2 linked regions of the Homo sapiens genome follow. The protein of the gene in region 2 interacts with the protein of the main gene of each other region in a pairwise test. Each region holds a gene or a part of one and is shown on either strand. Other genes may lie near its edges.

Evidence for each region.
Region 1: the proteins of ANKRD44 (region 2) and PPP6R1 interact in binary tests that used the Homo sapiens proteins (3 or more experiments, as listed by UniProt).

The regions. Positions count from the first base shown.
Region 1 is NC_000019.10:55,229,526-55,245,536, reverse strand, and holds the end of PPP6R1 (serine/threonine-protein phosphatase 6 regulatory subunit 1), read left to right. Parts: coding exon 1-45; intron 46-134; coding exon 135-272; intron 273-286; exon of another isoform or gene 287-351; coding exon 352-417; intron 418-3,048; coding exon 3,049-3,161; intron 3,162-3,257; coding exon 3,258-3,371; intron 3,372-3,897; coding exon 3,898-4,060; intron 4,061-4,145; coding exon 4,146-4,298; intron 4,299-4,457; coding exon 4,458-4,592; intron 4,593-5,236; coding exon 5,237-5,301; intron 5,302-5,422; coding exon 5,423-5,538; intron 5,539-5,560; exon of another isoform or gene 5,561-5,625; coding exon 5,626-5,711; intron 5,712-5,853; coding exon 5,854-5,943; intron 5,944-6,034; coding exon 6,035-6,132; intron 6,133-8,566; coding exon 8,567-8,624; intron 8,625-8,715; coding exon 8,716-8,894; intron 8,895-13,325; coding exon 13,326-13,462; intron 13,463-13,554; coding exon 13,555-13,735; intron 13,736-13,868; coding exon 13,869-13,939; intron 13,940-14,045; coding exon 14,046-14,127; intron 14,128-14,584; and 9 more. UniProt on the Homo sapiens protein: Regulatory subunit of protein phosphatase 6 (PP6). May function as a scaffolding PP6 subunit. Involved in the PP6-mediated dephosphorylation of NFKBIE opposing its degradation in response to TNF-alpha.
Region 2 is NC_000002.12:197,304,179-197,320,457, reverse strand, and holds the start of ANKRD44 (serine/threonine-protein phosphatase 6 regulatory ankyrin repeat subunit B), read left to right. Parts: upstream 1-9,677; 5' UTR 9,678-9,853; coding exon 9,854-9,880; intron 9,881-16,279. UniProt on the Homo sapiens protein: Putative regulatory subunit of protein phosphatase 6 (PP6) that may be involved in the recognition of phosphoprotein substrates.

The sequences.
Region 1 (16,011 bases), on a different chromosome or scaffold from region 2:
TTCAGCAAGGTCATGGGCATCCTCATCAACCGCAAGACAGACCAGGTGCCCTGGCCCCCACCCTGGCGCCACCGTGGGTTGAGGGGTGGTGGCTGGGCCAGGCCCTGTGCATGACGCAGCCCGTGTGCCCCCAGCTCGTGTCCTTTCTTCGGAAGAAGGATGACTTCGTGGACCTGCTGCTGCAGCACATTGGCACCTCGGCCATCATGGACCTCCTGCTGCGCCTGCTCACCTGTGTGGAGCGGCCTCAGCTGAGGCAGGATGTTGTCAATGTGAGCAGGGCCGGCTCCTCTGGGGGTGGGGGGCTGGGCGTGGTGGACAGCGATGCATCCCTCGCCTTCTCACCCTCAGTGGCTCAACGAGGAGAAGATCGTCCAGCGGCTGATTGAGCAGATCCACCCGTCGAAGGATGAGAATGTGAGTGCTGCCGATGCCCCTGCGGATTCCCCTTAGAGTTCCTTCCCCATGCCCACTTCCCCACTTTTAAAAGAGGAATTGGGGCTGGACGCAGTGGCTCACGCCTGTAATTCCAGCACTTTGGGAGGGCGAGGTGGGAGGATTACTTGAGCCCATGAGTTTGAGACCAGCTTGGGCAACATAGTAACACCCCGTCTCTACGTAAAAACTTAGCTGAGTGTGGTGTTGCACACCTGTAGTCCCAGCTACTTGGGAAGCTCAGGTAGGAGGATTGCTTGAGCCGGGAGGTCAAGGCTATAGTGAGTCATGATCACACCACTGCACTCCAGCCTGGGTGACACAGTGAGACCCTGTCTCAAAAAAAAAAAAAGAAAGAAAAGAAATTGGTGAGAAAAGAGAGCATTGAGAACCAGGTGTATCCATGCCCTTTGAGAAAAGGAAAGAAACTTGACTCAAGTGATTCTCCCACTGTGGCCTCCGAAAGTGCTGGAAAGGTTTTTTTCATGACCCAGGAACTTGGCACATAATGCCTTGCAGGGAGGGGCCCTCCTCATCGCCTGTCCAAGCGCTGGCCCCACATCCGTCCCTGCCCACCCTGGCCTGTGCTATTGCTGGGCCTGGCAGCTTTTTCCCTGTCTCCTGCCTGATTGAACCCCTTGCTGTCCTTCTAAGTGTCCGTCCAGCAGCCTTGCTTTCAAGCGCCCTCACATCCTCCCCTTTAGCTCTGGGGGACCCCATGTCCATGTGTTTCTCCAGCTTGGGTCTCCATCTCTGTCCTGGTGCCCAGCACAGGGCCTAGTGTAGAGTGGGTGTTTGTCAAGAGCCTCAGATATCCGAGGCCACTGGGAGCAACATGTCCTTCCCAATGCCAACTTCTGCCTCAGAGGCGCACAGGCTTACAGAGCAGAGATGGCTCTGGGCTCACCCAGGCTGGGGCCTGTCCCTGTGAGGACCCTGAGGCATGGCCCAGGGCCACACTGCCAAGCCCTGGCAGCTGCCCGTTGGGTAGACTCAGCTCTGCTTATGCTTCTCTCTTTTCTCTCTTTTGTAGCAGCTTTACTGAGATGTAAATTGCACAGCATACCACTCACCCACCGAAGCTTACGATTCAGCGCTTTTAGGGTATTCAAAGCGTTTATCATCTTGTTGAATTTAGATTATTTTTTATCACTCCAAAAAACAAGTCCTGCCTGTAATCCCAGCGCTTTGGCAGGTGAGGCTGGAGGATTGCTTGAGCCCAGGAGTTTGAGACTAGCCTGGGCAACATAGCAAGACGTTGTCGCTACAAAAAATTGAAAAATTAGCTGGCATTGGTGGTGCACACCTGTAATCCTAGCTACTCAAGAGTCTGAGACGGGAGGATCTCTTGGGCCCAGGAGTTCAGGGCTGCAGTGAGCTGTGATGGCACCACTGCGCTCAAGCCTGGGGTGATGTAGAGGCCGTGTCTTTTTTTTGAGACAGTGTCTTGCTCTGTTGCCCAGGCTGGAGTGCAGTGGCGTGATCTTGCCTCACTGTAGCCTTGACCCCCCTGGGCTCAAGCAATCCTCCTGCCTCTGCCTCATGAACAGCTGGAACTAGAGATGCACACCACCATTCTTGGCTAATTTTTTTGTATTTGTAGAGATAGAGTTTTGCTATGTTGCCCCGACTGGTCTCAAACTCCTGGGCTCAAGTGATCCTGCCACCTTGGCCTTTCTTTTTTTTTTTTTTTTTTTGAGATGGAGTCTCGCTCTGTCTAGAGTGCAGTGGCACGATCTCGGCTCACTGCAGCCTCCACCTCCCAGGTTCAAGCGATTCTCCTGCCTCAGCCTCCCGAGTAGCTGGGACTACAGGCGCCTACCACTGCGCCTGGCTAATTTTTTTATTTTTAGTAGAGATGGGGTTTCACCATGTTGGCCAGGCTGGTCTCAAACTCCTGACCTCGTGATCCACCTGCCTCGGCCTCCCAAAGTGCTGGGATTACAGGCGTGAGCCACCGCGCCCGGCCCCACCTCGGCCTTTCAGACTGCTGGGATTATAGGCATGTGCCATCACACCCAGCCGAGACCCTTTCTCCAGAAAAAATAAAAAAGATGCCCTGTGTTCATTAGCAGCTCCTCCTGATCTTCCCCTTTCTCTTCTTAGCCCCCGGCAACCACCAGACTATTCTGTCTCTGTGGATTTGTCTTTGGACATTTCATATAATTGGAATCATGTACTACGTGATCTGTGTGTGGTTTCTTTCTCTAGCATGATGTTTTTGTGGCTCATTCATGTGGTTGCATGTATCAGTTTCACTCCTTTTCCTGGCTGATTAGCACTCTCCTGTGTGGATAGACCAGCTTGGGCATATTCACTCATCAGTCAGAGCCTTCTGGGTCATTGTGGGCGGTGCTGCCAGCCCTGTATGCGGTCATGAGGGCCTTGTGTGGATGCCTCCTGTCCTGGGGAGCCTTCCGGGCTTCCTGTTCTCTCCACCATCTTCCCTCCAGCAGTTGGTGCCTCTGTGCCCTCCTCCTTCGTAACACGTGTCCCTGTGTCTGGGTGACCATTTTTCCCTGGATGGTCAGCTCATGGGAGGGGCTCCCAGCACCAGGCTGCAGAGGGCCCGGTGGCCCGACCAGGATCCTCACCTGTCTCTCCCCGTTCCAGCAACATTCCAACGCATCCCAGTCCCTGTGTGACATCATCCGCCTGAGCCGGGAGCAGATGATCCAAGTCCAGGACAGCCCAGAGCCTGACCAACTGCTGGCCACCCTGGAGAAGTGGGTGTGCGGGCAAGGCTAAGGCTGGGGGGAGCTGACTTGGGGAAGCCCTGGGCCCCTGGCCCCTCACCCTGACCCCTGCCCCTGCCCCCGCAGGCAGGAGACGATTGAGCAGCTCTTAAGCAACATGTTCGAGGGGGAGCAGAGCCAGTCTGTCATCGTCAGTGGGATCCAGGTGCTGCTGACCCTGCTGGAGCCCAGGAGGCCGAGGTGAGGGATACGGGCCACAGACCATGCATGCTGCCCATCCCCAGGGGCTCTCCGGCCCCTCAGAGGCGGGTCTCGGTGTCCACCAAGAGAAATCCCCGCCCGTGGCACCTTGCTCTGTGGCTGCCTGTGCTCCCTGCACAGTGGACAGTACGGGGCCGAGGGAGGAATCTTCTTGTCTGCTTTGACAAGTGAGGGCACTGAGGCTGAGGCCACTGCTGCAGCTTGTGTTGGGAGGGACCCCAGGCCCCCGTGCCCCTGCCTTACCACACAGGCCGCTAGCCTGTTGGGTTTGCCTTCCCGCCTCCACCCCTCACCCGTGCTCTCACAGTGGACTGCCAATGCTGCCGCCTGGCGGGCTCCCCACCCCAGCCAGGTGTTGTCTGAAGGGCCTCAGAAGAGAGCGGCGCTGGGGGCATGTGGCTCCTCGTTTTCCTCCAGACCCTGCAGACGTGGTCCTTGTGCCTACTCCTGTGTGGGCGCACAGGCCATCTAGGCTCACTCCGCCTTCGACCCTGCCCTGCTGCAGGTCCGAGTCCGTGACCGTGAACAGCTTCTTCAGCAGTGTGGATGGGCAGCTGGAGCTCCTGGCCCAGGGGGCCCTGGAAAGCACTGTGTCCAGTGTGGGCGCCTTGCACGCCCTACGCCCGCGGCTCAGCTGCTTCCACCAGCTCCTGCTGGAGCCTCCCAAGGTCAGGGGTGTGGGTTCTGGTCCTCGGGGAGGCGGGGGAAGCAGGAAGGGCAGCCCTTGGGAATCAGGCCTCCCTGTGTCTGCAGCTGGAGCCGCTACAGATGACATGGGGCATGCTGGCTCCGCCTCTGGGCAACACGCGGCTGCACGTGGTCAAGCTCCTGGCCAGTGCCCTGAGCGCCAATGATGCAGCCCTGACGCACGAGCTCCTGGCACTGGACGTGCCCAACACCATGCTGGTGCGGGGACTGGACCGGGCTGGGGGTTCAGGGGCTGGGGCGGGGACTGGACTGGGCTGAGGGTTCGGGGGCTGGGGTGGGGGCTCGGCTGGGGGCTCAGGGGTTGGGGGCTCGGCTGGGGCGGGGCCTCTCTGGTACCAATCCTGTGTCCTCCCATAGGACCTCTTCTTCCATTATGTCTTCAACAACTTCTTGCATGCCCAAGTAGAGGGATGCGTGAGCACCATGCTGAGCTTGGGGCCACCTCCTGACAGCAGCCCTGAGACGCCCATCCAAAACCCTGTTGTGAAACATGTGAGCTGGGACTCCCTGGTCCCCCTCCTTCTGGGCCCATCCCCTGTGGGCGCACCCTCTCCAGAGGCCTACCCCTCACTCCTTCCTCCCACAAGTGTTTGTTGGGTAGTGTTAGGTGCCAGCGCCCAGATGGGGTGTGGGAGGCATGGCCAGGGAGAAACGCGGATGAAACATGCAGGTGCAGGGAGCAGTGGGCTCCTGACTTGAGCTGAAGAGCTAGGGGTGGGCGGGAGCAGACCTGCGAGCAGCTGAGTGTGCATGAGTGCGCACACGTGCGTGTGTGAGCATGTGTCAGTGCAAGCGTGTGTGAGAGCATGTATGTGTGTGAGTGCACACGAGTATGTGAACATGTATGTGTGAGCATGTGTGTGTCCGTTAGTGCATGCATGTGTGTGTGTGTGTGTGTGTGTGTGTGTGTGTGTGTGTGTGTATGCACCACATATTCTTTTGTAGAAAGACCAGAGAGACTTGGGTGGATGCCAGGGTCCCAAGCCCCAGCTTGCATCCCTCCTTCCCATCCCCGTCTCTGGATGAGCGGGGGCCTGGTGAAGCATCTGCTGAGGAAGGGACCCCTGCTGCAGTGCAGAGCTCCCCACATGTGTGCAGACCACCCCTCCAGGCCATCCTGTCCCGCTCTCCCGCAGCTGCTGCAGCAGTGCCGCCTGGTGGAGCGGATCCTGACGTCCTGGGAGGAGAACGACCGTGTACAGTGAGCACCTGCTGCCCTTCATGTCTCCAGGGGCTGGGGCTGCCTGGATGGGGGGCCGGGCTGGGGCTGGGCATCCCTGGGTCCAGTCCTGGCTTGCAGCCGCGGCCTTCACTCTTGCCAGGTGTGCGGGAGGCCCTCGGAAAGGCTACATGGGTCACCTGACAAGAGTGGCCGGTGCCCTGGTGCAGAACACGGAGAAGGGGCCCAATGCAGAGCAGCTGCGGCAGCTGCTGAAGGGTGAGGGTCCCCAGGCCGGCCTGAGGGCTAGGTGGGGGGCTTGAAGCCCCGAGATGCCTCACGTCTTCACCCCTCTCACCTAAGCAGAGCTGCCCAGCGAGCAGCAGGAGCAGTGGGAAGCCTTCGTATCGGGGCCCCTGGCGGAGACCAACAAGAAGAACATGGTGGACCTGGTGAGGCCCAGCTTCTCTTCCTGCACTCCTCCTGCTGCTTCTCTCTCTTGGGCCAGTCTTAGCCTCCCACCGCCACCGATAGCTGCCTGCCCACCCTGGTCTGGGGGCTCCAGCAGGCCCTGACGCCCCCTCCTCTCCCCAGGTGAACACCCACCACCTACACTCCTCCAGTGACGATGAGGACGACCGGCTCAAGGAGTTCAACTTCCCTGAGGAGGCTGTGCTGCAGCAGGTGGGCGTGGGGCTATGTGGGGCTGTGCTGGGCTATGCTGGAGTGGGGTCCTGCCCAACTCCCTCCAGCCCTAACCTCCGCACCCCCACAGGCCTTCATGGACTTCCAGATGCAGCGCATGACCTCTGCCTTCATTGACCACTTCGGCTTCAATGATGAGGAGTTTGGGGAGCAGGAGGAGAGTGTGAAGTGAGTGTCTCCTGCGCAGGGTCACAGCCCTGTCCTGCCTCTGCAGCAGCAGGCGCGCCTACTTGTATCTGTCCCCTGCACGCACCTACATGCCCTGTGGGCTCAGCCTGCAGCTGTGGCCCCTCCTGGGCACGCGTTGGCCGTGGCCTTGTGTGTGTGTCTGCAGCCTCGTGTGTCTGCCTCCTGTTACATGAGTTCCAGCTCTGCAGTCTCTTCTCTCCGAGAGGCAGGCCATGAGGGTGGGGCACAAACATCTTCTGTGCTGGGGACACAGAGCGGGTCCCTCCCACTCCTGGAGCTAGCCTTAGGGGTTCCAGGCGGGAGGGGCTCAGGGTAGTGGGGACCAGCAGTCCTGGCGCAGGGACTGTGGGGCAGAGCTGCACCTCCATGGATGCCCTCTGGCTCAGGAGTCTGCCAGACATGGGGGTCCAGTTTTCCCCTCCACAGGCCTCGGGGTAACAAAACTTTTTTTTTCCAATTACCAATTCTGCTTGTTTTGATTTGTGGGTCAACCACATCTTAATATCAGTCACCTCTGGGTGTTATGATCATGAACTTTTCTGAGTTTCTTGCCACAAGCATCTGTTGCTTCTGGAGTCAGAAAAAAGTGGCTGGGCGGAGTGGATCACACCTGTGATCCCAGTACTTTGGGAGGCCGAGGCAGGCAGATCACCTGAGGTCAGGAGTTCGAGACTAGCCTGGCCAACATGGCGAAACCCCATCTCTACTAAAAAATACAAAAATTAGCCAGGCGTGGTGGCAGGTGCGTGTAGTCCCAGCTACTTGGGAGGCTGAGTTAGGACAATCGCTTGAACCTGGGAGGCGGAGGTTGCAGTGAGCCGAGATTGTCCCACTGCACTCCAGCCTGGGCAACAGAGCGAGACTCTGTCTTGCTCCCCACGATGAGCTCATTTACGGCCAGGGAGACTGAGGCCCCAGGACATAGCTGGTTAGTGTGTGGGAGCTGGATGGCTGCCCATGGCTGCCCCGGGGTCCCTGTACAGCACAGCGTAAGGGACACCACGATGAGGGATAGTCAGCTGTTCCTGGCTTAGTCCACAGCTGGACAGAGGTCCTCTCAGATGCAGACGTGATATCCTGTGTTGGCTGCTTCTGTGCCCAGCATGGAGACTTGCAGAGCGTTGGTCTTTGTGGGTCAGTGGCCTGTGCCGAGACCCCTGGAGAAGATGCTCAAGTGAAAACTGGGCTGGACACAGTGGCTCACATCTTAATCCCAGCACTTAGGGAGGCCGAGGCAGGAGGATCGCTTGAGTTCAGGAATTTCAGCCCAGCCTGGGCAACATTGTGAGACCATCTCTGCTTTTTTAATTAAAAAAAAAAAGAAGAAAACCCCACCCTGGCAGGAGAATGAAGGGACTGACTGGTAGATGGCATTGGGGTCACCAGCTGCCCCTTTCGGGATGAAACTGTTAGCTTTTCCTCTACCAAGAAAATTCCAGAGGGGTTAAGAAGTTAAGTGAACAAAACTAAACCCAGAAAGATTTCCGGAATGGAAAGTGGATGACTGGTTTGATCATCTCAAGGCTGAAGATGCTGCCCCGCATAGCTCCTGTAGCAGAAGCCAGGTCAGCTGAGGCTGCCAGTGCCACGGGGACATGGGCTGCCCTGCCCTAGACCCACTGTGTGCCCAGCGTGGTCTCTGCTCCGCTGCTTCTCAGTGTCTAGGAGGGACTAAGGACACTTGCCTTGGAAGGTGGTTGTGAGAATGAAGTGCGTGAGTAATGTCTGTCACATACTTAGTGTCCTTTAAGAATTAACTGTCCTTTATCCATTGATCTTTGTGGCAGAATTTTTCATGAATTTGAGACAAATGATCCCTTGAACTGTCCGTAACACGTGGGACAGAATGTGGACCCTGATCATTAGACCCTCGTGGTGAGGGAGGTGGGGCCCTGGCAGGCACAGTTTAAGTTTTGACGTGATTCTTTTTCCCATAATTTAGAATTTCAGCCGCGGACCGTAGACATCTTGAGGTTAGGGGATGTGCTTTATTGGGCTGTAGTCTCACATTCTGCTTGTGCCTGGCTGGTGTGAGTGTCAGCCTCCTACAGATGCCCCAAGGATGGGGACAAGGGCATGGATCTGAATCCCTCTCTGGCACCTGTCCTTGGAAGAGCCTGAGGAGAGTCGCTTAACATTTCCGAGCCCCATTTTCTCACTTCTAGAGCCAAGGGAAACAGCCTACCTCAATGAGTGGTTTTAAGGATTTAAAGTGATCATATGTGAGATGTTGATATTCATGTATGCGTTGCCCCTTAGGACCAGTGGTTCGGGTTGTGTGTGAATTTGCAGATACCAAATCTGCAAGTAATGAGGGTCAGCTCTGTGTTGAGTGAAGAAAGAAATGTGGCCTGTCCTGTGCTGCCCCCACCCCCAGGTGGACCTTCTCACCATGCCTTGCCTTCTCTCCTAGCGCACCTTTTGACAAGACAGCCAACATCACCTTCTCCCTCAATGCTGACGATGAGAACGTGAGTACTGCCCTGTCCCCTGGTTGTGGCGGGTGGAGGGGTGTGGGGCTGTGGGCAGTGTGGCCCATCCTCCCACCCCTGTGCCCTGCAGCCCAACGCCAACCTACTTGAGATATGCTACAAGGACCGCATCCAGCAGTTTGATGATGATGAGGAAGAGGAGGACGAGGAAGAGGCCCAGGGCTCAGGGGAGTCTGATGGAGAAGATGGCGCCTGGCAGGGCAGCCAGCTGGCCAGGGGGGCCCGTCTGGGCCAGCCACCTGGTGTCCGGTGAGTCCCCCTCCAGTTTCCCTTCTCCAAGCTTCCACCACACGGCAGGGCCAAGGGGTCCCCCCAACACATTTGGACTGAGGCTGAAGTGAATGAAGAAAATAAGGAACCTGCATTGGTGTGTGTATTAGTTGGGGGCACTTTCACTTTTGAGTGATAGAAATCTAATTCAAGGCCAAGCATGGTGGGCTCATGTAATCCCTGAGTGCCTGTAATCCCAGTACTTTGGGAGGCCAGGGCAGATGGATTGCTTGAGCTCAGGAGTTTGAGACCAGCCCTGGGCAACATAGGGAGATCCTGTCTCTACAAAAAATACAAAAGTTAGATGGGCATGGTGGTGTGCACCTGTAGTCCTGGCTACTCGGGAGGTTGAGGTGGGAGGATGGCTTGAGCCAGGGAGGCAGAGGTTGCAGTGAGCCGAGATCATACCACTGCACTCCAGTCTGGGCAACAGAGCCAGACTTGTCTCAAAAAAAAAGGTAGATGATGCATTAAGAAATCAACAAATTAGCCGGGCACAGTGGCTCAAGCCTGTAATCCCAGTACTTCGGGAGGAGGCCAAGGTGGATGGATCGCTTGAGCTCAGGAGTTTGAGACCTAGCCTGGGCAACATAGCGAAACCCTGTCTCTACAAAAATTACCTGGATGTGGTGACGTGTGCCTGTAGTCCCAGCTACTTGAGAGGCTGAGGTGGAAGGATCGCTTTACCCTGGGGGGCGGAGGTTGCAGTGAGTTGAGATCGCACCACTGCACTCCAGTCTGGGTGACAGAGACCTGGTCTCAAAAAAAAAAAAAAAAAAAAGAATCAACAAATTAAAAAAAATCAGCCGGGCACGGTGGCTCACGCCTGTAATCCCAGCACTTTGGGAGGCTGAGGCGGGCGGATCACGAGGTCAGGAGATCAAGACCATCCTGGCTAACATGGTGAAACCCCGTCTCTACTAAAAATACAAAAAATTTGCCGGGCGTGGTGGCGGGCACCTGTGGTCCCAGCGACTTGGGAGGCTGAGGCAGGAGAATGGCGTGAACCCGGAAGGCGGAGCTTGCAGTGAGCCAAGATTGCGCCACTGTACTCCAGCCTGGGCGACAGAGCGAGACTCTGTCTCAGAAAAAAAAAAAAAAAGGAATCTAATTCAAATGAGTTAAGTTATGAAAAGAAAGGGATAATCTCTGTGGCTGAAAAAATAGGCAGGTCCTGAGGTATGGCTTGGTCTGTGTGTGTCTCTCTCTTCCCGCCTCCCTGTCTCCTTCCTTCATCCCTTCACTTCACTTCCTCGTGTTAGCTCTCACACGTTTTCCTAGAAAGGGGGGTAAGATGGTCCCAGGCAGCTTCTCTCTTCTCTAATTCCAGTAAAATGAGAGATGATGACGTCCCTCTCCAATCAGGCTGTGATGACATTTTAGTGCAAATGTTACATTGTTTTTTTTTTTTCTCTTAATACTGGCCGGCCCCAGAGTCGCTGTGATGAAATGGGTTCATGCCATGTAGATTTGACAGCCTGAACACTAAGTCATCATCTGCAACTGAGTTTTTGACTCATGACTTTTGATTTCGGAATTAGGCTGTTTTCACTTTTTATTGACATGTAACATGCGTATAGACAAGTGTACATACAGATCCTGAGTGTGTGGCCAATGGATATCCTTCCTCAGTGCCCAGACCCAGGAGCAGGACCTTCCCAGTACCCACATCCCCTCTGTTAGCCAGTATCCTCCCTTCTGAGGGTAAAGTTGTCCTGGCTTCTAACCCTGTAGATGAGTTTTGTCTCTGTTTTCACTTGATATAGCATACAGCATCTCCTTTTATGTCTGACCTCTGTTGCTCAACACTCTGCTTGTGAGCTCCTTCCCTGTTGTGTGTTTGGGTGCCCCTGGCTCTCGTGCAGTGGGGCAGTGCCATGCATGATGAGCTGCAGCTGAATTGCTTGTTCTGCAGTTGACAGGCCTTTGGGCAGGTTCCTGTTGCTCGCTGCTGTGAGTGCAGCCGCTGTGAGTGCGGCCGCTGTGAATACCCTTGCACGTGTTGTTGGTGCACAAGTGTGTCACTGCCAAATCCAGCATCTTGACTTAGCCCTCTCTTTTCTTCTAAGAGTTTTATAGCATTATTTCTATGGTTTTCCATTCATTTTGAGCTAAATTTTGTATATGATGTGAGGTGGTCCACCTTCATCCCTTTACATATAGATAACCAGTTTTCCCTGCACCAGTTGTTGAAGACACTGTCCTTTCTCCACTGAATCATCTTGGCACCTGTGTAAAAAGGAAATATTTGACCATATGTATGAGTTTGTTTCTTCCCTCTCTGTTCTGTTCTATCAGTCTGTGTGTTGTTTTTATCCAGTACCACACTGGCCTGGTTGCTGTTGCTTTATAGTAAGTTTTGAAAATGGGAGGTTTGTTGGGCACGGTGGCTCACACCTGTAATCCCAGCACTTTGGGAGGCCAAGGTGGATGGATCACCTGAGGTCAGGAGTTTGAGACCAGCCTGGCCAACATGGTGAAACCCCATCTCTACTAAAAATACAAAAATTAGCCGGCTGTGGTGGGTGCCTGTAATCCCAGCTACTCAGGAGGCTGAGGCAGGAATATCGCTTGAACCTGGCAGGCAGAGGTTGCAGTGAGCTGAGATCGCACCATTCATTGCACTCCAGTCTGGGTGACAAGAACGAAACTCCATCTCACAGAAAAAAGAAAATGGGAGGTTTTAGTTTTCCAACCTTGTTCTTCTTTTTAAAGATTGTTTTGCCCTATTTGGGATTTCTTGAGATTCCATATGAATTTTAGGATCAGCTTGTCAATTTCAACCAAGAAGCCACCTTGCGTCTTCTAATACGTGAACATGGATGTCTTTTTATATAGGTCTTAAAATTTCTTTCAACAATGTTTCGTAGGTTTTAGAGTATGAGGCTTTGTATTTCTTTTAAGTTTATTCCTGTTTTCTTCTTTCTGTTACTATTGTAAATGGAATTTTCTTGAAATTGTTTTCAGATTGTTACAAGTATATGAAAATACAATAGGTTTTTGTATGTTGATCTTTCATCCTGCAACCTTGCTGAACTAATGTATGAGTTCTGATAGTTTTAGTGGACTCCTTAGGATTTTCTATGTACAGAATCATGTCATGTGAATAGAGTTCATTTTCCTTCCTTTCAAATCTGGATGATTTTAATTTCCTTTTCTTGCCTGGTTGCCCTGGCTAGCCTCCGGGACAATGTTGAACAGAAGTGGCAAGAACAGGCATCCTTGTTTTGTTCCTGATCTTAGGGGGAAGCATTCAGCGTTTTGCCATGTAAGCATGCTGTTAGTTGTGGGGTTTTGTAGATGCCTTATGTTAGGTTGAGGGGCTTCCTTTATACTCCTTAGTCGTTGAGTATTTTAGTTTACTTTTAACTATATACAGATATATTACTTTCCAGTTAAAGTAGTCAGTTACTCTGTTAAGACAAAAATATTGGGTCAGCATTTTAGACATAGTATATAGTCCCATACTGCATCTTTGGGTCAGCGATGGACCACATATGACAGTGGTCCCGTGAGATTATAATCCTCTATTTTTGCTGTATTTTTCCTATGTTTAGATACACAAACATTTACCATTGTTAGAATTGCCTGTAGTATTCAGTACTGTAACATGCTGTATAGGTCGGTAGTCTAGGAACAATAGGCTATACCACAGAGCCTAGGTGTACAGGAGGCGCCACCATCCAGGTGTGTGTAAGTGCACTCTAGAATGTTCACACAATAGCAAAATCGCCTAATGATGGCGTTTTTCAGAGTGCACCCTCGTTGTTAAAGCTTAGTTTTAGTGTTACTTTGCTTACCCCTTCCCCGGTTGATCAGCACGTAGGTTGCTTGGATTTTCTTCATGCTCACAGGTGTGTGTTAGTCAACATTCAGCCAGTGTTTTTGGAGCAGCTATGGGTGCCTGGTGGTTTCTCAGGGCTGAGGATACAGCAGTGGCAAAACTCAGCCATCTCTGCCTTCTTGGAGTTTCTAGTTGGAGGGAGAGAGTAGTGTGAAGCCTCTGTCCAGAGGGTGGGCCTGCTGGTGGGAAGGCCTGTCACTGTGGTGACCGTGTGAGGTGACGGCTGGGAGGTGGCTTGAGAGCTGGTGAGTGGGTCTGTCTGCTCTGGTTGCCATGGCTGAGGCTCAGCCCACTTCCCCAGGGCCTGCCCTCCACGGATGACTGGCGACGGACGGTCTCCTTACGGCCGCATTCTGTCCCTGCCCGCCTGTGTTCTTGCCGTTGGCTCAGAACTCCCTCTCCCAGCCTCTCCTGGTGTCGTCACACCCCAGGCTCCCTGGACCCTTCTGTGACCTGCCTGTCATCCCAGCCCGCTCTCCTTGGGCTGACCCTGGGCTGCAGGGAACAGGATGGGTGTCGGCCGGTCTGTCCCACACAGCTAGCTGACGAGGTGGTTTCTGGGGCAGGAGTGGAGGCAGCACAGACAGTGAGGACGAAGAAGAGGAGGACGAGGAGGAGGAGGAAGACGAGGAGGGCATTGGCTGTGCAGCCCGTGGAGGGGCCACCCCTCTGTCCTACCCCAGCCCTGGCCCTCAGCCTCCAGGTGAATGAATGGGCGGTGTGGTCAGGTGTACACAGGGCTGTCTGCCTGCTACTGAGTTCACCCTCCATCCCGCTCCCCCACCTCTATCCCAGGCCCCAGCTGGACAGCCACCTTTGACCCAGTGCCTACAGATGCCCCGACCAGCCCCCGAGTCTCCGGGGAGGAAGAGCTGCACACTGGGCCTCCAGCCCCACAGGGGCCCCTCAGTGTGCCCCAGGGCCTCCCCACTCAGAGCCTGGCCAGCCCTCCTGCCCGTGACGCCCTGCAGCTCAGGTGAGAACCGGATGGAACGGGCTAAATGGTGCTGGTATCCCGAGGCCAGGAGGTGGCCATGGGGTCCCCGTCCTCTCATAGGCTCGAGTGCTAACCCTAGCTGCCCCCTTGGGCTGCCTCTCTCGCCTACCAGGTCTCAGGACCCCACACCCCCCTCAGCACCTCAGGAAGCCACAGAAGGCAGCAAAGTCACGGAGCCCTCAGGTGAGCCCCGCTTTGCCCTGCCCACCCGCGGCCCTGGGCAGAGAGAGCAGCCTGGCCAGCTCCGAGCTTGCTGGGAGCTGCAGCTGAGATCTCTTATCCCCCACAGCCCCTTGCCAGGCCTTGGTTAGCATCGGGGACCTTCAGGCCACCTTCCACGGGATCCGTTCTGCCCCCAGCTCCTCGGACAGGTGAGCAGCGAGGTGGGGCTGCCTAGTATCGGGAGAAGTCTTTTCTCCTCTTCGCTGAGGTGGGCTCTGGGTTCATCTTGTCCCTGAGCTGCTCCAGGCCTCCTTTGCAGGACCCCCAGGCGCAGCCTCATGTTGTGCCCCAGCCCCTTGCACTCTGTAGGCTGGTTCTTCTCTTAGTAGCCTGGGATGCTTGGGGCCCTTGAGCCCCAGGGTTGGGAAGGGCTCGTTGGAGGGTGTGAAGGATTGGGAGGGTGAGAGCATGCAGAAGACCCTTTGGGGCTGTCTCAGCCGGCCTCGAGTACCTCCTCCACAGGGACAGGAGGCGGGAAGAGGGGTGCTTGTCTTCCTGTCCAGGGCTGTGCTGTCCCTCCACGCTGAGCCAGCTGCGTCCTCGGGAGGCCCCTCCCCGTGGGGCAGGTGGCAGACACACACCCAGTGAGCCGACTTCAGTCGGGTGGGATGTGAGGGTGTCAGCAGGTGACGGTGGGGGCCACGCTGACAGCCGCACCTGCCTCTCACCCACAGTGCAACCAGAGACCCCTCTACCTCTGTCCCAGCCTCCGGGGCCCACCAGCCCCCCCAGACCACAGAAGGGGAGAAGAGCCCAGAGCCCTTGGGGCTTCCCCAAAGCCAGAGGTGAGCACCAGGGCAGCAGGGCGGGGGGGTGGGGGTGGGGCTGGTGGGGCAGGAAGTGACCTCTGCACATCCCCTCTCTCCCCTGACAGTGCCCAGGCCCTCACGCCTCCTCCGATACCCAATGGCTCTGCCCCGGAAGGGCCTGCATCCCCAGGCTCCCAGTGAGTGTGGCTGCAGCCTCGGGCTGGGTAGGTGGGGCTGGGCCTGCTAGACCCTCACACGACATCTCCCTCTGTTTCCAGATAGCTGCCTGGTGCGGCAGCGGCGGCCAAATCTTCCGTCCTCCCGTGGATCTCCCGGGGTGGGGGCAGGGCGGGTCCCACGATGGCCCCCATTGCCCTCATCACCCTGACACCCCCACATTCTCTCCTCTGGACCCCCAGGAGGCTGGTGCCAGGGAGACAGGCCCAACCCACCCCCATTTGCACTGAGAAGAGAAGTTTTGGAGCGTTGCCTCCTAGAATAAAGATACAGAGAGTCAAATAGAGAGAATGGAGAGAGAGAAACATATATTATATATTATATAGAGAGAGGGAGGAGAGCGAGAGAGAGTGAGGACACCGAACTGGGCTGGCGGCTCCAAAGCACAGCCTTCCCTGTTCCGTCCCAGCGGGAGCTGGTGTTAGGGGTCCCAAGGTTGCCACCCACGTGCCCAGCTGTCCCACGCTGCAGCGCAGACGGCCACGCCCACACCCGGCCTTTTAGCTCAGGTCCACCATGGGGGACGGCCCAGCGTGGGTGGGGGTGCCAGAGGGTCCCGAGTGGGGGCCGTGCCTTTGCCCAGACCCTGCACTTTCAACCAGGCCAGTCCGGCTCTGGGGAGCAGGGGCCTCCCCGGCAACAGCCCCAGGGGCCTTGAGGGTCTGAGGTCCCAGCCCTGTTGCCAAGTGACCTTGTCCCCAGCTCCCTCCTCCCAGGCTGGTGTGAGTGTGCGTGCGTTTGTGCCGAGCTTCTATTTCATATTGCAAATATAAATAAAGGAAGGCAGTTTACGATTCTGCTGGTCAGACCTTACGTTCTGGGATGCGGGGTGGGGAGCCTGTATTATCCCTGCACCCCAGAGGCTGGGGGTGCTCCTGACCCAGTCTGCCCCCACACTGTCCTGCCAGAGGGAGCCCTGTGGCTGCAGAGGCCCCAGGCTGGGCCAGGCACTGGCTGTGAGGGCTCCTGCCAGGTCTACCCCACCTGTGGGCAGGGCCTTGGGCAGAGGATAGAAGCCACCGACAGGCTCAAATCCCTGCTCCTGCC
Region 2 (16,279 bases):
AGCACAGGCCCCAGCAGATCCCAGAGGGAGTGTTGGAGCTAAGATGTGCTTTCGGAGATGTCCTTAGTTGAGGCAAAAGGGGCTGGGCCTTTGTACTCTCAAATTCACTGGATATGAATAGTTTCAAGGGAGGGACTGTAATGAGGTGAGGTGGTTGCTTCTGACTGAGGGTAATTCCTGAAGGAAGAATCAGCTTCAAGCTATCAGCAGGCAACACTCTCTGCAGTTGGGGGCATAAAGCCTTTGGTCCTGAATGTGGGAACTGGGTGGCACACTACAGCATCCACGACAGTGAAATACTGTGTATTCATAAGTTTATATGTTGATATGGTTTGGGTGTGTCCCCACCAAAATCTCATCTTAAATTGTAGCTCTTATAATTTCCTCTTATCGTGGGAGGGACCTGGTGGGAGGTAATTCAATCATGGGGGTGGGTCTTTCCCATGCTGTTCTCATGATAGTGGATAATATGTCTCATGAGAGCTGATGGTTTTATAAAGGGGAGTTGCCCTACACAAGCTCTCTTCCCTGCCACCATGTAAAACATGACTTTGCTCCTCTTTTGTCTTCTGCCATGATTGTGAGGACTCCCCAGCCATGTGGAACTGTGAGTCAATTAAATCTCTTTTCTTTATAAACTACCCAGTCACGGGCAGTCCTTTATAGCAGCATGAGAATGGACTAATACATATGTTTTATATAAACATATAAAATACAAACACAGATATACAGATATACACACACATTTACGTGCACATTTATATTTATAAAATTTAAAAAAGCATACATCAAGTAAATAAAACAACCATAGCGAAATGTGATATGGTATATTGGGTAGATTTAGTAAAGTCATAGGCTATGGTCACTACAGTACACAGTTCTCGGCCTTGCTCTTTAGGGAATGTTTTTGAAATTTGAGAGAACATATTTGGTTGTCACAAAGAATGGAATGCCCAAGCATCTATTGATTGGAAATTAAAGATGCTAGCTGTCCTGGAAAGTGGTCTTTCAAATGTCCCACTGGATATTCATGTAGGTAAAAATCTGTCTGCAATTATCTTAGCCTGGAACTTAACCCGTTTTACATATAAACACAATGTTTTAGTTTAGTTTAGATTTTTTTCATTCTAGGAATGTAACTGTGTTGTGGTATCAGTCAGGATCTAGTCAGGAAAACAATCTACATTATTATTATTTTTTGAGATGGAGTCTTGCTCTGTTACCCAGGCTGGAGTGCAATGTCATGATCTCTGCTCACCGCAACCTCCACCTCCCAGGTTCAAACGATTCTCCTGCCTCAGCCTCCCAAGTAGCTGGGATTACAGGTGCCCACCACCACACGGAGCTAATTTTTGTATTTTTAGTAGAGATGGGGTTTCACCATGTTGACCAGGCTGGTCTTGAACTCTTGACCTCAAGTGATCCGCCAGCCTCAGCCTCCCAAAGTGCTGGGATTACAAGTGTGAGCACTGCACCTGGCTCAACCTACATTATTTTAACAGAAATAACCCTTTCCCGTTTGCCCCGAGAATATGCGCCAGCAGCGCTTGTGGATGCAATGTTTACCCTGAGATAACTTTGCCATGAAATATCTCACTTTTATTATTTTTGCATCGCTCTGACATATTGACCTTGAAAACAAAAGACGTCATTCTATTTATAGCATTCTGTTTCTAGTAGTGGCATTTCTGTTTACAAAATATAGTAATTCTCGATTGCTGAAAATGTCAAATTCTAGAAAACGTAGCATTCCTACACGTGATGTTAACAGCGTTCTTGAACAGTTGTTGACTGAAGAGTCACTTGATGAATCTGATTTTTCTGAAATAGATGATTTTGATGTTAGTTCTGTTTAGAAATAACTCCAAGAACAGTTTTTAGATTTTATTTTCACATTGAAAATCAGATTTGCTTCAACCTCAAAGGGCGTGTTTATGTAAAATCAAATGAGTGCAGGCAGTGAGCTATACTTTTTTTTTTTTGTTTGTTTGTTTTGTTGTTGTTGTTGAGATGGAGTTTTGCCCTTGTTGCCCAGGCCAGAGTGCAATGGTGCGATCTCGGCTCACCACAACCTCTGCCTCCTGGATTCAAACGATTCTCCCGCCTCAGCTTCCCTAGTAACTGGGATTACAGGTGCATACCACCACGCCCAGCTAATTTTTTTTTTTTTTTTTTTTTTTTGTATTTTTAGTAGACATGGGGTTTCACCATGTTAGCCAGGCTGGTCTTGAACTCCTGACCCCAAGTGGTCCACCCGCCTCGGCCTCCTAAAATGCTGGGATTACAAGAATGAGCCACCATGCCCAGTCAGCTATACTTTTGTTTCTAAACAAGAAAAGGGTTAATATGAGGAATTGCTTAAATAGTCCTGTTTAATATGGGGAATTGTTTAAATAGGTGTTAGAGGACTGAAAAAACAAAAAGGGAACACAGAGATAGTAACTTTAAGAAGCAGCTACCACCAGTAGGGCTGGGAACAATGGGAAAAGGTTAGTTATTAGAACGAAAAGCTTGGAAGAGAGGCCCTTTTCTTCTCTTCATATCTTCACTCCTGAAGGGTCTGAATCCATTTTTTAATCCTTTTAAAAAATTATAGTAGCTTCCATCAACTTTTATTATAGGATATGGAAGTGCTAAGGGGTACCACAGAAAATCCAGAACATAGTCCTTCCTGTCCCAATCGTCCTCCCTGTCCCCATCGTCCTCCCTGTTCCCACTGTGTTGTAGCAAACCAATTTCCTCTTGATAATGGGAATCAGTAACCCCACCCAGAAAGGTAACCCCTGCTTTTCCTGTTGTTTCCATAGCATGTGGAACCGAAAGTGGACACATCCCAGTCTTAGCTTCTAATTCAATGAAACCATAATTGTGATCCCTGGTGGGAACCCTCCCTTGGGAAGCAACACCCCCAAACCAGCAGAGCTCAAAGCAAAACAGGCACTGGAAGCAAAAACTGTATGAGTGGATTATTGGGTGTAATGATGAAAAGAACCACTTCTACTACAACCACCACTCCCTTCTCCCTCCCAGCCCCACCCTTGATTCTTGGACCTTGTATTTTGGGGGAAGCAGTACTATGTACTGACTCCTGACTCAAAGCATTTTCTGTGTCCTCCAAGAGGTAACTTCACTATGTTAGTGTGGTGTTTCCCAGCTGGTGCTGGAACTCAGTCTTCAGTAGAACTCCATCATCCTTCCAGGTGAGCTGCTTCTGGCTGATGAGGTATTGATAAGACTGGTAAATTCCATTTACATGAGTCCTTTGCTGCATTTCTTTTGCCATGAGATGAGTTCCTCAGAAAGAAGTAATATTGTGTAGACTATATAACAGTGAGTAAGATACAACATAAGTCATGGATGGTAGTTCTGTCAGAAACACTCTCTGGGCCGGGCATGGTGGCTTATGCCTGTAATTCCCGCACTTTGGGAGGCGGAGCAGGCAGATTACCTAAGGTGAGGAGTTCTGAGACCAGCCTGGTCAACATGGTGAAACCCCATCTCTACTAAAAATGTAAAAATTAGCCAGGTGTGGTGGCGCATGCCTGTAGTTCCAGCTACTTTGGAGGCTGAGGCAGGAGAATCACTTGAACCCCGGAGGTGGAGGTTGCAATGAGCCGAGATCATGCTACTGCACTCCAGCCTGGGCAACAGAGCCAGACTCCATCTCCAAAAAGAAAAGAAACACTCGCTGGGCACAAATCCATATCAGCTGGGCATGGAGGCTTACACCTATAATCCTAGCACTTTGGGAGGCTGAGATGGGTGGATCACTTGAGGCCAGGGGTTGAGACCAGCCTAGTCAACATGATGAAACCCTGTCTCTACTAAAAGTACAAAAATTAGCTGGGCGTAGTGGCACACTCCTGTGATCCCAGCTATGCAGGATGCTGAGGTGCGAGAATCGCTTGAATCTGGGAGGCAGTGATTGCAGTGAGCTGAGATCACGCCACTGCACTCCAGCCTGGGCAACAGAGCAAGACCCTACCTGAAAAAAAAAAAAAAAACAAGAAAGGAAAAGAAAACAAATTCATATCCACAATATGTGTCTACTCTAGTGAAGACAAGTAACTGTTCCCTCCATGAAGGAAGGGTTCCAAAATAATCAATTTGCTACCACATGGCTGACTAGTCTCCCTTGGAAATGGTGCCTCTCAATGTGTGATTTCTGATGTTGTCAGATATCAGCCTTACTGCAGAGAAGCCTAAGATTTGAAGCCCAAACATAGTCTTTATTCCTGACTCCATGGCTACTTTGAGCAAGCACTGCAATAGGTGGAGAAAGAGGCCCACTCCACCGAATGTGTCATTCACCTAATTACTAAAAGCCTTCTCAGAGTAGATGCTCTGTGGTGAGCATTCACATGGCACACAAATTCCTCACACTTTGTGCCTATTCTGAAAGGTGCACCCACAAACCTCTTTCCCGGACCACCTCATCTTTCCAAGTTGCTGACCATTCAGCAAAACCATCAATAATTGCCTGTGAATGAGTGTAGATCTATACCTTTGACCGTCTCTCTCAATCCAGACAAAGTAGACCCTAGGTGCGCTGCTGGAAATTTCTTGCACTGAGAAAATTTCCCTTCAGTACTGTCATCGGGGGCATTCCTTATTGAGACTGTGATGCTGGAATAGACCACTTCCAGCTTGTGCCAGTATATTTAGGAGAACTGTCTGTAAATCAGTTAACTGGTCTTAAGAAATTCCCCATGAAGTTGAAGATAAGGAGGCACCAGGAGTAAGTATCAAAGGAATCTGAGCTACCTGCTAAGGCAACTTGTGCTTTCTGGACCTGCTTAAGCTCAGTCTCTTACATACCATTTCCATTTGATGAGGAATTCCTCTTGTGTATGTCTGGTCTTATGGATTGGTAGATTAGATTACACTCAGTTCATAATGGGCAGCTGAGCTTGCAGTCACTTGATTGTCTCATGGCCAGTCATTCAAATTCACTTAGCAAGCTAGGGACCATTCCTCAAATAGAAAATTGTTATCTGCAGAAGAGGGCATGACTTGCTCTACAACTAAGGAATTCTGCATTGTAGATCTAATCAGGGCTCACCAGAGGCTCTATATAGCATCCTTATTTGCCACAGACACTTTAAGTATCATTGGATTCCTCTGGGTCATCAAGTCCTGCTACAGATATTTCTTCTCCCCTTATTCCTAATAAAAAATTCCAGCCTTATGGGTTGCTCTATAAATGGGTCACAGCATCACACTCAGATGTGATACATATTGCCTCTAAAATCCAAGGATACCCAGAAAGTATTGTGTCTCTTTTCTTAGTGGTAGATGGTACAAGGTGAAGTAATTTGTCTTTTACGTTGGGGAGAATATCCTGGTGTTTTCTAGACCACTGGACCTCCAGAAACTTCACTAAGGTGATGAATTTTCTTGGGGTTTATACCCAATCTCTGGCTCACATGTGTGTTGTTAAGGCAGCTAAAATATTTGTTACTTCCTGTTTATCAGGGCCAGTCAGCTCGATGTCTTTAACATAGTGATCAAGACCTGTGCAGATGAGATTATGCCAGAGAGTGGGAGTGTTTACATCCCCTAGAGAAGACTGTAAAGGTGTACTGTTGATCTTGCCATATAAAAGAAAACAACTTTTGGTGAAAATTGAAATAGATAAAAAGCATTTGCCATATCAATAGTGCACACCAGGTGCCTAGGGCTGAGTTGCTTTGTTGCGGTAAAGACAGCATATATAGAATAGCAGCTGCAACTGACATTACCATTTGATTAAGTTTACAACTTAATAACAAATCATAGTTATTCTCTAAGATCTTTTGCATAGGCCCAACAGGTGAGTTAAATGGAGATGTGACAGTATTATCATTCCTGTATCTTCTACGTCTTTTCTGGTGGTACCAATTTCTACATATTTCCAGGGATTGAGCATTGTTGTTGGTTTTCTATTCTGGTATCAAGAGGAAATTCCAGAGGCTTCCATTTGGCCTGTCTTACCATAATAAACTTCACTCTGTGGGTCAGAGAAATGATGTTAGGATTCTGTTAGTTACTGAGTATGTCTATTCTAACTAACAGTTGAGGAGATAACTATAGTTTGGGTCTGCAGAGCTACTGGATCCACACTGATTTATACTTAGTTAAAAATTTCATTTATCACCTACCATAGATCCCCATTTTGATTGGTGGATCCAGTGGTGTTTGCAATCCTCAGGAATTAGCATTAATTCAGAAGCAGTGTCAGTGATCCCTCAAATGTCTGGGTATTTCCTTTTTCCCAGTACTCGCTCAGCCTAGAAAAATACATCAGGTTCCTTTGGATAAGGCTTGGATGAGGATTTGTAGTATATATTTATGACAATGCTGCAAGACCCTCCTGAAGGGGACCAGCTTCCCTTTTAATCAAGGAGCTCTGTGTCTGTGAACTCATTTAGGTACGGAAACTGAATGAAAGATAATTTCATTTTGATGGCTCAAGGGAGCTTTCAGGTGGCAGATGTAGAGTTTTGTCTGTTATAAAGATCAATGGCTATTTCCAAAGTCTGCCCGTCTATTTCATTCCTAGGACAACCTAGGGCACTGCCAGATATACCTGTAGGTTAAGACCTTTAAGTACTACTTTGTCTCTGCTGTCCATTACAGTAAATGTGTCCACCTTGTCTCTGCCAGCTAAGTGCTGCCACTTGGCCATTGCTGTCGCAGGATCCCACTAATATAAAAATCAAGGAGCCATCTCAACGAAAGCATCTCCCACCATCATATCCAGCTACTAGAGAGTTTTTCTGACGTTCTCTCTCGAATGTATTTTTCTTTCCTTTTCTTTTTTTTTCTTTTTGACAGAGTCTTGCTTTGTTGCCCAGGCTGGAGTGCAATGGCGCGTCATTGGCTCAGTGCAACCTCTGCCTCCTGGGTTCAAGCGACTCTCGTGACTCAGCCTCCCAAGTAGCTGGAACTACAGGTGCATGCCACCACGCCTGGCTAATTTTTTGTATTTTTAGTAGAGACGGGGTTTCACCATGTTAGCCAGGCTGGTCTGGAACTCCTGACCTCAGGTGATCCACCTGCTTCAGCCTCCCAAAGTGCTGGGATTATAGGCATAAGCCATGGTGCCTGGCCTGTATTTTTCAATGCTTCAGTATAAAGATCATCATCTGGCTCTCCAGGAATATGTAGGGGTTGGCTGTACAGATTATACATGATAAAATTATTCCAACATTCCCATCTCCACAAATCTTTGGATTTCTTTCTCTACATTATACCAGGGGCATTCTGGCTTCTCAAGCTCACCGAATATAGTCAACTGCTGAGTCTGAGTCTCATTTAATGAAGTAAACAAAGTGTTTGAATCACTGTCAAAGTACTGGCTAACACATTAAAAGCAGACCTTCTGATAAGTGTAGTCTTATCAATAAATTTTGCCAAATCTTCTGCTCCCTATTTTATTTGGAACTTGGCCACGAGTTGTTCAACCTTTCACAAAGTCAGGTCACCTATGACAACACCAATCTTGATATTTGAATTCCTAACACTATATGTTCACATCTGTCTGCATTTGTAATTCTCTCATTCACAAAGCCTCTCCATATAGGTGGAAGCATCTTACTGCTTTGTTTTGTCAGAAGACAAAGAGAGTTGTGTTTTACCACTTACCTACTGAAATACATATTCATTATAAATTACTCTCCTTTAATTTTTCCTTTATTGTACAATTAGGACAATATATTGTTGCTGGTTTTTTTTTTTTTGAAATTTGTATTGGTAGGTAATATTATCCACAAATTACCTTTCAGGATAGTAAGGGGAGTGTTAAAGATACTAGTTACAAAAAGAGGATGATGGTCTGATTGGGTGGAGAACTGCTGCCTCCTCACTTTGGCCCCAGGAACTTAGGTGCAGGCATGTCCGCGATGAATCAAATTGGATCTTGAGTGAATCTTCCAAATTAAGTCATTTGTTATCACTCTTCTGAAAGATGGCTCTATTTAAGTAGAGAATGCAGGGTCCTATTCAGTTTACTTACAAAGCCATGCAGGGTGTTCAGTAAATAGACATACCAATAACAGCAGTGAAGAACTGACTCATAGATGCAACATAAACAATCTGTTGTATGTCTGAGAAAGGCCTTAGAATTTTTTGTTTGTTTGTTTCCATGCAACATTGATAACAGAGGAGTGGAAGCCAGGAACAAAGTTCCTTGGTTCTTCTTGTCTGCATGATCTGAATTATAATCTATAAGACTAATAAAGGTAAATTTGAGATTTAGCTGCTTCGACAACCAGAGTGGCTGGATGGTAAATGTGAGGATATTAATGCTCCTTTCTCTCCTGTCTCATGTGGAATCTTTGGGGGAGGTTCTAAGAGTAGGGAGGAAGAATGGACATTTGGTTTGTGAATATACAGTAGAGGCAGATGTTTGGTCTTGACCAAAGAATTCTGTAGCTCTAGTTTGCTCTTCAAAGCTGTTCAATGCTGCCCTACAGGTTTGCTCTATGGCCTGCCAGGGGCACATGGGGCTGCCTGGGAGCACTTCCTCTCCACTTGCTTACTTAATTCTCCCTTCTCCAGATCTCAACTCCTGTCACTTTCTCAGGGAAGCCTGCCCTCACCCACCAGTCTGGTCTGATTCCTTTGTTGTGGGTTCACTTCAGAAGCATGTTTTCCCTTGAGATCCCTTATCTCAGTTTGTAATTACATTCATTAGCAGAGACTATGCGGTTTATGTTGGCATCTTCTGAGAGCAGGTTATCTTATTTATGCTCTCCGTTTATTCCCGTGCCTAGCCAGTGCCTGACAAGGTAGGGACTCAGTACATAGCTGTTCAATGAATAAGTGTTTGCTCCAAATTCCAGAACTATCAACAGCTACTATGCTTACGAATATGCCCGTTGTATCTGTAGCCCATGGTGTTTGACAGCTGTCTTCTATTTGTTGAAGAGCTTGGTAACTTGGGATTTTGTAGAGATCAGTAAGGACTGGTGGGAACACCCAAAAGACCCATCAACTCGGTGATTTAGGACTGCTTTGCTTCTCCAGGAACTCCACTCCACCCCCACCAGCAAAAACCAAACCCAGGGTGTTTGAATTTAACAATAGTATGTGTGTGTGCATATGTGTGTGTGTGTTTAGCTGGAAAGTGGCTGGAGAACAAGGTGGAAGGGCCAGAGCTTCTGTTCCCTCCACCCATAAATGTTTGGCAAACACCCTGTAAAGAATCACAATGTGTCCGCTGCCTCCTGGCATTAAACAAAGGGAGCATCATAATTGCGGTCCCTGGGATCTTCGGGGCGCTGCCACCACCTGATTCTGGGTTAGGGGAAGGGGGCGTAACCCCATCTCCCCGGTTAAAGTGGACGGCATGTGAGTGAGAGCCTTTCCTGCCCCCTCGGGGTGTGTCCCCGCGGGCTTCCCCACCCATATGTGTGAGACCCGTCAGGGAGGCCCGCGATCCGCCCAGGGCCCGGGGCCGGCCCGGCCGGGCGCCGCGTGCAGGTGCGGAAGGCAGGCGGCGGCCCGGTGCGGGCGCGGGGGCAGCGCCGGGGGCCGGGCTGCGCGGCTCGGCTGCGGGCGGCAGGAGGCAGCGTCGGCCCAGGCGGCGGGCGGCGAGCGAGCCAGCGCGCGGTGATGTCAGTGGCGGCCCGGCTGGCAGCAGCCGGTACTTCCTGTGGAAAGGCGGGCGGGCTCGGCTGCAAACCCCACTAGCCAGTGTCAGCCTCTCGGCGGGAGGAGGCGGCGGCGGAGGAGGAGCAGGGGGAGGGCTGTCAAATTCGGGAGCCAGATTTTTTCCCTTCTCCTGGCAATCCCTTCCGCTTCCCCGGCTCCCGGCGTGACATCTGCGGGCCGGGGACCTGCATGTGTGTGCGCGCGAAGGAGCGGAAGAATGGCAGTGCTCAAACTCACCGACCAGGTAGCGGGCGGCGGCGCCGGCGGGCGGGACGCGCGGGCGCGGGGCGGCGCGGAGCCCGGCGGGGGGATGGGGGCGCGGCTGGAGCGCGCCCGCGAGCTGTTTACTCGCGGCGAAGGGGAGGACTGTGTGCGGCCGCCGGTGCCTCCGAGAGCCCGCGGCGGCAGCTCCCCTCCGCCGCGCCGTCCCCGCCCTGGGCCGTCGGAACTGCGCGCCCGAGTCTGGGGCAGGGCCCGTGGGCGCTGGGCAGCCGGCGTGCGGGAGTGCGGCGGCCGCGGGCCCGGCGGGGCTGGGGAGGGGGCCGGGGGCTCGAGGTGCTCTCGGGACTCGCACCGCGCCGCGTTGCGTGGGCGCCGCCGGCCCGGGCCCCGGGGAGGAGGACGCTGCACGAAGAGGGAGAAAGGATCGCAGACTGGGACCCCTCCCCAAACCTAGCAGGAGTCCTGCCCAGAATGCGGCTCTTGTGTGGCCGGGCTGTCTTTATTTATCCGTTGGATGTGACATCCGACTTCCTCTTTAGTTGCGCCAGGCTGTGTGCGTGGTGCGGGATGGGGACCCCTGGAGACCGCCCTTTCGGATCGGGCCGGTCCCTCTGAGGAGGAGGTGAAGTCGGCTCGGAGCCTCCACTCACAGGCGGTGGGCTACGGTCTGCCTGTGTCTACCAGCTTTGTTGGCTTTCCTTGCTGAGACACCACACAGGGCAGCTCTGGAGTCCTGGCTTGGAGAGGTGGGGTTATTTGCTGAATCGGATTGACAGTCCTCGCCGCAGGTCTGTGGAATGGTAACAGCCACCTTCGCGGACTCTGCTGCTCTTACATTGACACTAACAGGCACCAAACCAAGTTGCATGACAAAACTCTTTGCAGCTCTTTCCACGAAAAAAGGAAACGGCTTGCTACCCCCACCCCCGTTTATTCGTGGGTAGTGAAAGGAACTTTGTTTTGGGGTCCTGGTAGGCAGAGAGGCAATCTTGACTTTGACTACAGGGTCAGACTTGCCAGCCCTTGGTATTAAATACCTCAAACTTGTCCATGGGTTGCATCTGCTGCCTTGCGTTCTCCAGTTAGTATCCAGCCAGAACATCTTGCAACTGAAGTGCAGTCCGTCACCACAATGATTTGCAATGATTTGTTCTCCTGCCTTTTAGATTCAATTTTTTTAGCTTGTTTTTCCTAAATATTTACAGGTGTTTGGCGGGGTTGGTGATGGGGAAATCACTGAGTTAAAATTCATGTTATTGTTAAATTTAGTAAGAAGAGCAGCTGGTACTTGTGATGAATGTATTTGTTCTCATTGGTTCCAGAGCATTTAAAAGTGTAAGTTGATATCAGGATTTCCTTCACCTTTTGGTCACATACTTTGCCAACTGTTAGACATTTGCGTATTTTAAATCCTACAGTTTTAGCGTGTCTTGGGCCTGTCATCTTTGCTAGTACACGTTGCTGTACTTGTCTGTTAATCCCTAGATCTTCAAAGTACAAAGAATGGTTCTAATAGGTATTGTTATCACATATAAGAAAGAACATCACATAGAAGTTTAGAGTTGTAAGGACTCTAAGGATGATCTAGCCCAAACCCTTCATTTTCTAAATGACAAAACAGATCTGGAGAAGTGAAGCAAGTCTTCCTCAAAGAATGCCAGCTATAGGCCTGCAGGACTGGGACTAGCTCTTGTCTTCTGCCTTCCAGGTGCTTGTACTTTCTGCTACAGTTGGTATAGGATAGCTCCATCATCTCATTGGATGTGTTGTAAGGGTTACAAGAAAACATCTCTTCCTAGATCAAGATCAACCCTAGTGAGAAGTGTATTACTTGGTCTTACAAAGAGAGGAAGTTATTCTTCAGGGCTTATCAGAGCAGGAATTTCAAAGATGTTGCCTTTTAAGATGTTTCCAAGTATATTTCCTTCCTTCCCCCAATAAACTAGTATGAGTATGGAGAGAAAGGAAGAGTCACACAACGTTTATTTGGTTCCATCTCCAGATACGTAAAAAGAACCTAAGGCGTTTTAAGATTCAAGAACTTCTGAAAATGTCCAGTCTATCTTGGGACAAAGTCAGAAGGAGATGGGGTGGGGAAGTGGCCTGGGTGGGGTGGGGTGGTGAACAACGATGGTTTCTGTGTAGCTTTAGGTCCAGGAAGTAAGTGTGTGGTCTTTCTTGCCTTATATAGTCTTACCTTTTCTGTTTGAGACTCAATTCTTAGAAGTCAGTTCTTAACCTCACAGATTAACTTTTAAAACCATTTGCTTAGACCACTACTAGAAGAGTTTTGCTCCATCATTGTGGGCAGGGAGCCGCCCGCCTGCTTGGAATCCCTGCCTTAGAGTTTGTACAGGAGTACCTTGCTCTCCATTCAGCTTCTAGTAAAACAACCACTTCTTAATTTCTCCCTCCTTTTTTTTTTTTGTGTGTGTGTGTGTGTGTGTCAGGGTCTCACTCTGACTCGATAGTATGATCATGGCTCACTACAGCCTTGGCCTGCCAGGCTCAAACATCCTCCCACTTCAGCCTCCCCAGTAGCTGGGACTATGGGCGCGTGTGCCACCACACCTGGCTAATTTTTGTATTTTTTGTAGACACAGAGTTTCGCCATGTTGCCCAGGCTGGTCTCAAACTCTTGGGCTCAAACAGTCCACCTGCCTCAGCCTCCCAAAGTGCTGGGATTACAGGCATGAGCCACTGTGCCTGGCACCTCATCTGTTGAATGCCCTATTTGTGAAGTGAATCTTGATTTTTGCTAGGCCTCTTGGATTTTTTACTGTTGATAACCTGAAACACAAATTGTCTGGATTTGTCTTTAAATGTGGCAAAAGTCAGGGGTGACAGATGATGACATTTTCTCTCCAGCTAAAGCTGGGTGCAGGAGCTTGCTAGGTGAAGCAGACACTACTTCAGCAGTCAGTCCTGTAGTGACCTCTCAATCTTGTAAGAGAAGGAAAATGTTTTTTCCTAACTCTTTTTTTTTCAGGAGAGTAAAAAGAAAAAGGGAGAGACCAGTGTAATTTTTAGTCTTTTTTTTTTTTTTTTCACTGTAAAAAAGGAACTGGGAGCTATCACTACAAACAAACAAACTTGGCATTTAGCACTTCTGCATTTGTAACTTTTGTAACAGTGTCCCTTCTGTTTTCCTCTTCACAGGGCACACATAATTTTTATTGCAGCCTTAGGGGGCACTAACCATCCTGGTTTGTGCAGATTGACTGGTGTCCCAGCATATGGGGCTAAAACCGGGAAAATTCCAGGCAAACTGGGAGGAACTGGTTACCCTGTGTAACATAGAACATCCTCAACTATGTCATTAATATAATAATGTAATTAGTTCCTTGTATGTGGACATTAGGAGTTTTATATTTTTTGGTAAAGTGAGATAATTTTAAGTTTGGGAAAGAAAATTTTGTTAAATACAGATCTAAGGCATTTGACTCAAAGATAGCCATGAAACCTTTTTGAAAATTGATTTGATATTGACTGTTTTAGGGTGTTCTTTATGTCATATAGTTAAAGGCACTGTAGTCATTTTAAGTGTGTGGTCGTATCTTCAGCCTGGATCTCTACCCGAAATTTATTTTCAGAGTTATGAAGCTAGGATGGTAAGTTCTGTTGCATGTTTAAAGTGTCCACTATTCTTACCTGCATTTGTTAATGATGGCAGAACACTACTTTCATCTCGGAGGCTGCCTGCAGACAAACTGTTTCAGCAGGTGGCCTTTTTGGAGCTTCCTGCCTGGAGGCCTTCTGGTTTGGTGTTCCCTTGCCAAGTCCTAGTTCACACTTGAGTCACCTACCTTCTTGCCAAAGGCAGTGGCTGGCAGCGGTGGCAGTGGCAAGAGACTAGAAATCCTGTGTAACTTTGGGAGCAGGATTTCTAGCCCATAGTGTGGGGCCTTGGGACGTGTTACATATTTTACTGGGCTGCCCTTGTTCTTCCATGGCTCCCTAGAGCACTGGTGTTAAAGCAAACAGTATGCTGTAGTCCTGTCTTCAGCATAGAAGAAGGGAAAAGAAAGGCTTTATTTAGAACCTTTTCTGGTTGTTTCAGGACCCAATCACATGGTTTTGAGAGTGCACTTGAGGCTGGTGTTTCATGGCAGAGACCTAATAATGTCACACATTTATTGTGCTCTTATTGTATACTGGGCCTTTGCAGTGAATCATGTCTTAATCCTCATAGCCACACTAGGAGGTAGGTGGTGGTGTGATTTCTATTTTATGGATGAGAAAACAGGAATAGAGAGGCTAATTGACCGGTTTAGGGTCATACGCCCAGTAAGTGATCTAGCACACTGTCCTACCCTGGCAGTCTGATTGCACAGGTGGGGCTCTGACCACAAGGCTATACTTTTCATAGTTGAAAGGGCAGTGCAGCCATGGGATTAATGGGTGTCTGATCTTGTTTACAGAGAAGCCATTGGATGAACAGCGTTCCCTGAACTCCTTCTGCCTCTTGGGCCAGACCCATTTCTGTACATAGTAAGGAGCTGCTCTGAGGCCTCTGCCCCTGCCTGGCTTATACCTGGCTTTTCCCATTAGCCTCTCCATTTCCTCACCCCGGTGAATGATGTGTTGGTAGTTCAGTGATTTTTTTCATATATATATATATATATATATATAAAACGAACTGCGGTCATTATAGGAAAAGCAGAAAGCTAGATGAGCAAACCAAAAAATTTTAAAACCATCTGAAGCCTGTATACTCAAGAGATAACTATTCTTGACATTTTGATATGTTTCCTTCTAGTCTTCTGTCTGGGTAGCCAGTTAAAATTTTTAAACTTTTCGTGTGATAATATCATTACCTTTCACTTGTGCACATAGCTGATATCTGTGTTCTCTACACCAATGACTTTTCCAAATAAACTTATTCTTCTCTTACATATATGATTGGCTCTTTAGCCAACGCCAGCACATAAGCTCTAGCTCTGGATTAATGGAACTAACTTTTTTCTTTTTCTTTTCTTTCTTTCTTTCTTTTTTAAGATTTCAACTTTTTACTTCCTCTTTTGCTGTAAACAGAGAGCAAATACGAACTCAAAAAGGCACAAATTGTTTGTACCAGAAACAGAAATGAAAGATTCTTTAAAAAGATTTGTATTTCTACAAGATAATGTGAATTTTTATAGGCTAAAGTATAGCACGAAATAATTTAAAAACAGGCAGAGCTACAGAGATCTGATAATTTTGTGATTTCCAAATTTGTTTAAGCTATGACACTCCTTTTTTCCCCCGAAGAAATTTCATATTGAAGCTCAATATATAAAAAAGATTGGCTTGGACAGTGGTCCCTGAGTCCCTCTTGAAAACTGGTTGGGTTTAGTATTATTTGAAAGCCCCTTTGTATGAGAAAACTCCTGGTGATTGGTTAAGTGTTTTTTGTTGTTGTTTTTGTTTTTTTTCCTGACACATCATGTATGAAACAACATTTATAAATGTTTGTGAATGATTAGGAACTACACAGAACTAGGATGACTATATCATTTTTATCCGTTTGAGAATCATAGGTGATACTACTCAATATGAAGCCACAAATAGACGTGAGCCAGGACTGTCCTGGGTAAACCTGGATATGTGGTCATCATATATTCACATAGACTCCATGTTTGCTCACCACAGGCTTGACAGTGACAGTAAACTAGTTTGACTAGCAGACTACTCTGTCTCTTTTGAGTCAGGTCTACAGTGGTGCAGGTATTACAAAGATTGTTTTATGACCTTGTGCAGAGTTGGGAAACAGCTTCCATGTCACACATGAGTTCTGATCGGTCCAGGACTTGCAGGTGTAATGTGATAGAAACATTCTGACTCTTGCAGTCAAGGATCCGAGAAAGTGTGATTGATTACCAGTGTTTGCTATGGGTACACGGGAAGGGAGAAGTGACATATGTTGTACATTAGCCAACCCTTGGCAAGACATGTTAACCTCTGTAGGCTTCAGGTTTCTCTTTGTAAAATGAAGAGGTTGGACTGGATGCCTTTATGGTGCCTCAGCTCTGCCCTCTCCCTTCTGTGACTTGGTGCCTGTAATGGAGACCGATGCTCTTCACATGGTTTGTGTTATAGCATTTCTTACAAATGTGCCTATGAAGGGTGTATTTGCAGATGAGCTCTAATAAGGCTTTCCAGGTAACAAAGTCAAACAGCTTCAAGTTCCAGAGAAGGATTTTAACCCATGTCAATGACTTAGGACTAATTCCTATTCTCCACCCTACTTCAATTCATAGATAATCTAAGATTACCCATTTTATTTATTCTGTATTTTTATTTTTTTGGGACAGAGTCTCGCTCTGTTTCCCAGGCTGGAGTATAGTGGTGCAATCTTGGCTCATTGCAACCCCCGCCGACCCCCTCCTGGGGTTCAAGTGATTCTTGAGCCTCAGACTCCCGGGTAGCTGGGATTACAGGC